Regions from separate parts of the Homo sapiens genome. Here region 2 is linked to region 1. Evidence: fine-mapped expression QTL. Tissue or cell type: whole blood. Region 1 holds a variant in brackets; the other region holds the start of a gene. All regions are shown on one strand. Distances are from middle to middle.

The links. PIP is the estimated chance that this variant, and not a neighbour inherited with it, causes the effect. A credible set is the group of variants that fine-mapping cannot tell apart.
Region 2: OR4D1 starts here. The variant in region 1 is the best candidate, but not a certain one, in a credible set for the expression of OR4D1 in whole blood (TOPMed, PIP 0.81).

Annotation. Positions count from the first base shown.
Region 1 is chr17:58,168,369-58,173,578 of GRCh38, reverse strand. OR4D2 (olfactory receptor family 4 subfamily D member 2) reads right to left here. Exons shown (of 2, transcript NM_001004707.4): 2 at 2,463-3,941. The coding sequence starts at 3,923. The coding sequence ends at 3,000. Among named protein-coding and RNA genes, the nearest start is that of OR4D2, 4.0 kb to the right of the region's middle. The variant G/A (reference allele first, on the strand shown) is at 2,757.
Region 2 is chr17:58,146,056-58,151,170 of GRCh38, reverse strand. OR4D1 (olfactory receptor family 4 subfamily D member 1) reads right to left here and starts at 2,787. Exons shown (of 4, transcript NM_001386095.1): 1 at 2,587-2,787; 2 at 1,375-1,742.

The DNA of each region.
Region 1 (5,210 bases):
TAGCAGAAACTTCCTGAGAAAAAACAGACATTTGACTTAACTAGACAAAGACTTTAAAGCAACTTTCTTGAACATAGAGTAAACTATGGGTAAAGAATTAAAGGAAGAAGAATGTTTTACATAGAAAATATCAAAAAAGAGAGAGAAATTGATTTAAAATAAGAAATAGTCTGGAGCTGAAAAGTACAATAAAAGTAACTGAAATGAAAAGTTCACAGGACGGTTTCAATAGGAGCTTTCGAGTAGGTAGAAGAAAGAATCAGCTGGGCCTGGTGGCTTACACCTGTAATTCCAGCACCTTGGGAGGCCGAGGCGGGTTGATCACGAGGTCAGGAGTTCAAGACCAGCCTGGCCAACATGGTAAAACCCTGTCTCTACTAAATATACAAAAATTAGCTGGGTGTGGTGACACGCGCCTGTAGCCCCAGCTACTCAGGAGGCTGAGGCAGGAGAATTGCTTGAAACTGGAAGGCGGAGGTTGCAGTGAGCCAAGATCACACCATTGCACTCCAGTCTGGGCAACAGAGTGAGACTGTCTTAAAAAATAAAAATAAAATCAATGAATCTGAAGATAGGTTAGTTGAGTTCCAAGATTTCTGTTTGACATTTTGGAATCATTTCAGTCTCTTTGTTAAATTTCTAAATTGCTTTTCTGTGTTTTCTTGGAGATCAGTGAGTTTCCTTGAAACTCCTATTTTGAATTCTTGGTCAGAGAGCTCACTAATCACCATCTTGTTAGGATCAGTGACTGGATTTTTGCTTTTTCCTTTTGAGGAAGTCATAGTTCCCTGTTTGCTGTTGTTTCTTGTGGGTATGTATCCATCTTTCCAGTTTTCTCTGTACAGCTTGTTTTGGTTTTTATTGAATACATTTGCTTATTGAATCTTCACTGCTAGGTCACTGCCTCTATTCGACTCTAGGTGGTGCCTTAAGCCCAGGTTCACCTCAGGACTAGTAAATGGTTGAAGCACTTCCTGTCTCAAATCAAGGAGATCCCAAAGAGATTATCCTGGCAGTGTGGGAAGTCTGGCTAGGGGTTTGTGCCCAGGGGACCTGGGGAACATGCCTCCTACAGCATGGTGCTGCTGGACAGCAACTCTGAGTTGGTGTCTCCTTTGGCTGAGTTACAGAGCAGAATTTCTCTGCCTTTCTTCGGGGACATTTCTTCTTTCAGGCAGTCATGATGCTATCTGTGGATTAAGGCAAGAACAGTTCTCCTGCCAGGGACCCCAAGAAGGTAAGGAAGCTGGTGGGCCACCTCAATTTCAGTTTTTCCAGTGTAGAAACTGTAGTTGGGAGGAGATTTTTTGGCACTTGGTGCTGGACAGAATGGGGATGAGGGGTGTCCCAGATGTGGAAGTCTGATTCTCCTATCAGCTGCTTGGACTTTTTTCATCCCTCTGTGGCCCCAAGAACTGTCTCACTCTTATACTTGAGCTCTGGGTTGTTTCTGGTGTAGATCTCAGTGCTATATATTTGTTTTTGGTTCTGTGGAAGTCGGGGAGTGAATCCAATTTTCCTCTATGATGGCATTTCGGAATCAGAGGTCTAGAGATATTATAGGTCAATTGAAATCATCCAGTCTAAGGAGCAAAAAGAAGAATAAACGAAAATGAACATAGGCTCAGAAGCCTGTGAGACACCATCAAGGATACCAAGACACACACATAATGAGAATCCTGGAAGAAGAGGAGAGAAAGGCGCAGTAAAAATAGTTTAGGCAATAATGGTCACAACTCCAACATGGAGAAACCCCATCTCTACTGAAAATGCAAAACTTAGCTGGGTGTGGTGATGAGTGAACTCCGGCCTCGGCAGCAGAGTGAAACTTCGTCTCAAAAAAAGCACTCTCCAATAGCCAAAACCTGGAAACAACCCAAATAAACTTATTTTCACAGTGGAATATTCTACAGCAGAGCAAATGAATGAATTAGAGCCAAACATCAACATGTTATGTTAGAAACATAACATGGAGTGAAAAAAGCAAATCCCAGAATATTATGTACAGTACAATATCTTTATAAAACTCCAAAGTAGCAAAACAATATACTGTTTATGTAAAAAAAGTGATGAAACTATTTTATACAAGCAATGAAGTGATAAACATGAAATTCAACAGAGTGATTTCTTCTGGATAGGAATCAAGGTGAACACAATGGAGAGGACAATACAGGTGAAGGCAAGTTATTGGTAACTTCTGGTTCTTGAATCGAGTAGTGTATACATGAGCATTTATACATAATGACATAAGTTTCATAATGTGCATGCATTGCCCATGATCTTTTATTCAAAATTTGTATATTATATTAAAATGTAAATATAGAGAGAAAAAGCTTGAATACTCATAATAATTTCATATTTGAAAATAAAATACAATCATTTTTAAAAGCTTGGAAGATAACATATAGTTATATGATTTACTTGTTGTTTTATCACAAAATTTTTTTATTTGAATCTCATAACAAACATAGAATATTTTAGGGGCACATACTAATTTAAGCAAATTGGTGAGGGAGAAATCATGAGGCCAAGAAAAGCTGGGTGGCTTACTCGAAGTCATCAGTTTGGTCAATGATGGGTCAGGGCCTCTAATTTAGAGCTTAAGACTCCAAATTCTGTGCTGTTCCCAACAACCCAGACTCACACCAAAAGGAAATATTGGGAAGAGAGCTCAAAATACGGAAAATAGAAATGTTCGCACAGGGGAAATGCTGTCAACAGGAAACTGTCCACCAAGAAGGTGAAAAGGAAGGTGT[G/A]GTTTTCAGGGGCCATGTGAACAATTCTCATTGTTGCGAGTGTGTTAAAACTCTTTATCACAAACCTTAACCACCAAAGAGGATACTTTCTTTTTTCCTAAAACACGAAGTTGCTTAGTTTCAAAATTCATTCCCTGCTATGATGAACCTCAACACACTATGAAGAGAGCAAAGGTAGTAGCTCCCTCTCCACTTCACAAAGGGAAAACAAAGCCAAAGAGAAGAAACCTACCATTGTCACTCTCAAACCAGCCGGTGTCTCCCTAATCTTCTCACTGCTGCCTGCATGTCCTGGTTCCTCAGGGTATAGATCATGGGGTTGAGCATGGGGGTCATGACTGTGTGGCCGATGGACACAAGCTTGTCCATAGGGAATGGAGTGAAGGGCCGGGCATAGAGGTAAATGCTTGGAACGAAGATCATGGAAACCACGATGATGTGGGTGGTGCAGGTGGAAGCTGCCTTCCTTCTTGCCTCCCCTGGATGTGACCTCAGCATCACCAGGATGAATAAGTAGGACATCAGGAGGAGGAAGAACCAGACGACATCCAGCAGCCCACTGTTGGAGATCTTGAGGAACTCCAGCAGTGAGGTGTCAGTGCAGGCAAGTCTCAGTACTTGGGGAACATCACAGTAGAAGTTATCCAAAATGTTGGGGCCACAGAAGGGCAGTGGGAGCATCAGAGCCAGCTGGACAATAGAGTGGACAAAGCCTCCCACCCAGGTGGCTACCACCAGCCCCACCCAGAGCTGAGTGTTCATGACGGTGACATAGCGGAGGGGCCGGGAGATGGCAATGAGGCGGTCAAAGGCCATCACTGAGAGGAAGAAGACCATGGCACCTCCCAAAAAGTGGAAGAAGAAGATCTGACCCATGCAGCCCTGGTAAGAGATGGTTTTCTTCTCAGAGAGGAGGTCCACTAGCATTTTGGGAGCAGTGACTGAAGAGAAACAGAGGTCTAGGACAGCCAGGTTTCGGAGCAGAAAGTACATGGGTGTGTGGAGCTGGGAATCAGAGGTCACTGTGATGATGATAAGGATGTTTCCCATAACAGTGGTGATGTAGACAAACAGGAACATTAGAAACAGGAAACGCTGGAGCTCCCGAGTCTGCGAGAGCCCCAGGAAGACAAAGTCTGATACCCACGTGAGGTTCCCTGTTTCCATGGTGTTTTCTCCATACACCTGAAGAAAATGAACCACAGACACAGATACATGAAGTCACTACTTTCCCTTTCAGGGCTCAGGGGCTCAGAACCAAGGTTTTAGGCCCATATGATGAGCATCCTTATGTGTAGACCATTATACTAGGTGCTGTCTTGTCTCTGGATCGTTTACAAGTGGGTGCTGGAATATACATTCCTGAAATCTTAACGCCATCCAGAAGTATATACAACCTGCCTTTCAAAGATTCATATAGTGGTGGGAAGACACTTGGAGTCAGATACATCTGAAGTCAAATTTCAGGTCTTTCATTTCATTGTGATTTGACCATGAGTAACTTACTTAATCTTTCTGGGCCTCAGTTTTCACGGGAATTTGTAAGGTAGAAATAAAAATACCTGCTTTGTAGAATTTTCTGAGGACTTAAGTAGAATGATAGATATAAAGTTCCTAAAACAGTGTATGGAATAATCAATGGCAATTACTCACCTGTGTGAATTCTCTTAATCTAAAGATATCCTCTCTTCCACTCTGTAATAAGATTCTTTGCCAATTATTTTTCACATGACATTTAATACATCATCGTGTTAATGGATTTTCCTTGTCTATATTTTCCCTCCACAATTCAACTATTAAGTCCAAAGCCTATATCTGGATCTCACAATTTATTTGTGCCCTGCAGTACCCATTCTTAATGACAGTTAACTTAAAAAGCTCTTGGTGTTGACTGCTGCATGGGTGAATAGCTATCAGGTGCACAAGTTCAGCACAAGGAAGACACTGGATGCAGCTGGATGCCTGAGACATCCAGTAGTTCCCCTGCCCTCCACTGTGGGCGGCCCCTTATGAGTGAGGCATATGTGGTGGTGCTGAGACAAGAGGGAGAAAAGGGAGGGAGAGTCATTGGATTGAGAAATAGATGATGAATATTGTATGAAGGGGACTCAGAGAGCTTCTGAATGAAACAGGAATTTTACAAGATGTTACTGAATCCAAGGGTGGGAGACAAAGGAAGTTGTTGAAAGAAAACAAATAGAAATAGACAAAGGAATAAAGGGAGATGAAGGAATAGAGCAAGTGAAGGTAAAGGAAGTGGAAAAGTGCTGGGGAGGTGGAGAAAACGGGACTAAAGGGACAGAAGAAGATGGAGGAGCCGGGAGAGGTGGCTCACGCCTGTAGTCCCAGAAATTTGGGAGGCGGAGGCGGATGGATCACTTGAAGTCAGAAGTTTGAGACCAGCCTGGCCAACATGGTGAAACTCCGGATCTGTACTAAAAATACAAAAAAATT
Region 2 (5,115 bases), 22 kb after region 1:
TTGTTGTTTTAAAGAGAGAATTACAAAATATTTTGATAAACTATAGTATAAATATAAAGGGAAAAAATGGACATGGAAAACCAAAATGTTACCAGTGTGAATAGTGGTTATCTCTGGTTGATGGGATTGATGGAACATATATTTTCTCTTCTTTACAAAATTTTTTTTATTTCTTGTAATTTATAAATTGTCATAAAATTTTAATCAAAAAAAGCAAAAGAAGTATTATAATGAGACCAAGAAAAAGAAAAGGTAAGAGCTGAAAAACTTCTTAGCATGAGCACTGTCGGGGCGAAAGACAACCGCAGGTGTGCAAGGGGAAGGGTTCGGGGAAGGAGAAACCTCAGAACACTGAGGAAAAGGGAGAGAGAGAAAAAGAGGAGGAGACGCAGTGTGGGAAAAGGGAAAGCTCTTCTGTAAAAGAGAGGAGAGAAGGAGACCGTGATTCCCAGGACTGTTGCAGAACCGCTGGATTCCTCCCCTCCTCATAACCAGTTCTTCAGTTTGAGTGTCACTGTAATGGCTAAAGCCCGTCAGTAACCGTGGGTTCTTTCAGCTCCATCTGGCACTGTGAGCTGCCTGTCATTATTATGAAATCATTCTTGCTACTTCTTTACTCTAAACCCAAATACCTCTCTGGCTCTCCTATTTCTGTCTGTTATCCCCTCACCCAGCTAGACTTCTCCCTTGAACTCCACATGTATTATCACCAAGGCATATTCGTTCTTCCTTTGAAATTACTGCCAAATTATTTTTCCTATCTGGCTTATTGCTGTGGGCCTCCAAGTGGGTTCTTGCCTCCAGGTTTTGGTCCATTTTAATCCACACTGTGCAACATAGTACATACATAAACTTCTTCAACAACATCTTCCCCCTCTATTTCAAAAGGTTTTCAAAAATTTTCCATGGCTCTTTATTGTCTACAGGAAGGAATTTGTACTTAGTTAGGATTTCAGGGGCTTCCACACAAACAGGCTCCTACCTTTCTTTCCAGGTCCATCTGCCACTTAATAGTAGTAGTAGTAAGCATTTATTGTAATTGTAGTAATGGTAATAACTGTGGTAGTAAGCATTTATTGTTGTAATAGCAGTAATTGTCATCGTAGTAAACATTTTTTGAATGCTTACTATGTGATAGACACTATACTAAATATTTTGCTGGCATTATCTTTTTTAATTCTCACATATTATTCCCATGTTTATAAGTATAGTAAGTACCATAAATTATCTCCACTTTACAGATAAGTAAACTGTGGCTTGAATAGGTTAACTAATTTCTCCCAGATCACATGGAGAAGAAGAAGCAGAGCTGGGATTCTGAGCCAGGTCTGATTGACCCAGAATTTGCACTCCTAATGACTATTCTCCTCTTACCTGCTCTCCTCTAAGAAGATTCAGCTTCAGCCAAACTTATCTCTTCTTCGGTCCCTCAGGTCTCAGTGCCTTCATCCAGTCAGTGCCGCATCTGAATTGCTTTTCTGTCCTGTTCACCTGTCTGAATTCTACCCTTCCTTCAAGGTTCAAGAGTAATTAGCTCTTCCATAATGTTGCTATGCCTTGGTATTTTTTCATGAGGATGGCTCTGTTCCTCACATGTGTTGTAATTTCAGTGCAAATCCAATATGTTAAGTATTACACAGTACGTGGTACACACAGACCCTTTCTCATAGTTGGTTCCCAAAAGAATGTGTGATTGCTTAATGGAGGACAGGGTGCTGGGATGGGCCAGACTGCCGTGAGAGCTGGGAAGAAAGAGAGAGTAGCCACTGGATAGAATGCAGTTTATAGGACCTCAAAGAGAATCCAAGAATCCTAATTCCCAGCATCACCAGATTTACAATCCTAGAAGCATCATCTTAGCATGGCCCGATTCTTTCCACAAACCCATCAGAATCTTTGCAAATGCTTCCTCCCCCTACATGCATAGAAAATAGATTTAGAGGGATTCTAGACAAGAAAGAAAATAGACATAGGGAGGGACATGGATCTGTATGGGGAAAGGGGAGGATTCTAGACCTCTTCTGTTGTTACTCAATCTTCTCTCCCATCTGTCTTTGCTCTTAGAAAATCAGCCCACACAGGACTAGGAGAGACGAGGGGAGAAGGAATAAGTGGGTTCCCAAAATGGGGTAGAATCTAGTCTGTTGTCATCCAGGGAGCATTAACAGGTATTGTTAAACACAAGATTTAAGAAAAGAGAGGATAAGATGGAGGGACAGCAATAAAGAAGGGAAGAAAATCTGGAGTGAGTGAGAGAAGCAGGCAGGAGAAGGGGGAAGATGGAGGAAGATGAGACTTAAAAAGGAACAGTAGAGGGTGGAAAGTGTCAGAGCAAGACCTGTTTGTGTTTTCTCCTAGGTGTGGGAAGAAGCTGTAGTATGTATGTGGGAGGCGGGGGAGATAACAGTGTATGTCTATATTCCGCTCTCCCTCCCACCCTCTGTTCTAAATTCCACCCAGCACATAAGCCAATACAGACAAAAGTCTTAATGTTAGATAAAATCAATGTTTCCCAAATCCCGTTCCCCTTGCATTAATGCCTGATGACTTCCCCCATGCCTTCCCTCCACCCCATGCTTGTCTCACGATAGGCTTTGTCGTGCTGATTTGTCCATGGGAAGGACAATGAGGCCATCACCTTCCTCCAGCCCACAGTGGCCAAGAGGACTTAGAGCCTCCCATCTCCCAGGTCACTCTTCTCCTGTAGCTCCATTCTTCTCCTGGCCTCTCTCAGACAAGGAACACATATGGGATTGGCCTTAAGGAAAGGGAAATTCCTTGGGGAGTAAAACTTAGGCTTAATTCATAAGATAAAGCCTGGCTCAGGCTGCTAAGGGCAAATGAGCAATGGGAGTTATTAAAAAGTATGTGAGATGTTGCATCAGATGCACATAATTATTGGGAGACTGTCTTGGGGCCAACATTTCAGAGTTACTGATCAAAGGACCAAGATGAAGAAGGATAAGAACCCTAAAGAGACGTGAATTCCCAGGGAGGTTTACAAGAACCAAATCCCTCAGCACCATGGGCAGTGCAAGGCCTCCACCCTCTCCTATCACCACTGTAGTTGGAAAAGTGAGTTATGTCCTAGGACACAGTCCAGGTCACCCCCTCTATAAACTCCAAAGCCTTTTTCATATGTACAGTCATTAAGGTACCATCTCTTATCCCAATCTCTGATCTGCTCTTCTCTCAGCCAAAGTGAACTCTCAATGTAAATTGGCTAAGTTCATCCTCAAGATATAATTCAACTACCATAAGCTTCACAATTATTAAATGATTTTAACCATTCAGTGGTTTTTAGTATATTCACAAACTTGTGTAACCATCACCACTACCTAATTCCAGAACATTTTCTTCGTTCTGAAAAGAAATCTCATATCCTTTAGCAGTCACTGCCCATTCTGTTCTCTCCTCAGTCTCTGGAAACCACTAATCTACTTTTTGTCTCTGGATTTGCCTGTTCTGGACATTTCCTAAAAATTGAATCATATAACACACATATGATGATATATGGCTTTTGTGTCCTGCTTCTTTCACTTATGTTTTTAAGTTTCATCTGTACTGTAGCATGTACCAGTACTAGTCATGTACCAGTCATTCCTTTTTATGACTGGATAATATTACATCATATGGATATACCACTTTTGTAAATCAGTCAGTCAGCTCTCGGACATTTGAGTTCTTTCCACTTTTTAGCTATTATGAATAAAGCTGCTAGGAATATTCATGTATAGGATTTTGTGTGGATGTATTCTTTCATTTTTCTTTGGTATATAGCTAGATGTGGAATTGCTGGATTTTATAGCAACTGTGCCTAATCTTTTGAGGAATAACCATCTTACTTAGAATAGTGAGAGTGAAGTGGCATCTCATAATTTTCGCATTTGTATTTATAAAGAATATGGTCTGTAGTTCTTTTCTTGTATCTTTGTCTGGCTTTGGTATCAAGATAATGCTGGCCTCATAGAATGTGTTAAAAAGTGTTCCCTTTGCTTCTGTTTTTTTTTTTTTTTTTTACAAGAACTTGCATAGTATTGGTGTTCATACTCCTTTAAATGTTTGGCAGAATTTACCACTAAAGCCATCTGGTACTGGACTTTTCTTGGTTGGGAGGTTTTTTAAACACTGATTCAACATTTACTTGTTATAGGTCTGTTGAGACTTTCTATTTCTTTTGAAATCAGTTTTGGTAATTTGTGTTTCCAGGAATTTTTCCATTTAATCTAAATTAGCCAATTTGTTGGCATATAGTGCTCATAGTACTCTCTTACAATCCTATTAATTTTTGTAAGGTTGGTAGTAATGTTTCTGATTTTATTTATTTGCCTCTTCTCTTTTTTTCTTAGTTTAGCTAAACATTTATAAATTTTGTTTATCTTTTCAAGAACTAACTTTGGTTACATTGATTGTATCTATTGTTTTTCTATTCTCTACTTCATTTATCTCTGCTCTAATCTGTATTGTTTTTTTCCTTCTGTTGGCTTTGGTTTTAGTTTGCTCTTCTTTTTTTAGTTCCTTAAAGTGTAAAGTTAGATAATTGATTTGAGACGTTTTTCCTTTTTTATGTAGGATTTTACAGCTATAAAATTCTAAGTATTGCTTTCACTGCACCCTGCGTATGTTGTGCTTTTGTTTGCATTCACTTCAAAGTATTTTCTGATTTCACTGCTGATTTATTCTTTGGCCCATTTGTTGTTGGAGAGTATGTTGTTTAACCTCCACATATTTGCAAAATTTCAAGTTTTTCCTTTGTTGTAGATTCCTTCATTCCATTGTAGTCAGAGAAGATACTTTGTATAATTTAAATCTTTGAATATTTATTGAAAATTTTTTATGGCCTAACGTATAGTCAATCCTGAAGATTGTTTCATGTGCACTTGAGAATGATGTACATTCTGTTGTCTTTGGGTGTTCTGTAAATCTCTTTTAAGTCTAGTCAGTTTATAATATTTTTCAAGTCCCGTATTTTCTTATTGATCCCGCTCCAGTTTTCTTTTGGCTACTATTTGCACAGAATATCTCTTTCCATCCTTTTATTTTAAACCTATTTTTGTCTTTGGAGCCAAAATAAGTCTCTTGTAAGCAGCATATAATTGGATTGTGTTGTTTTTT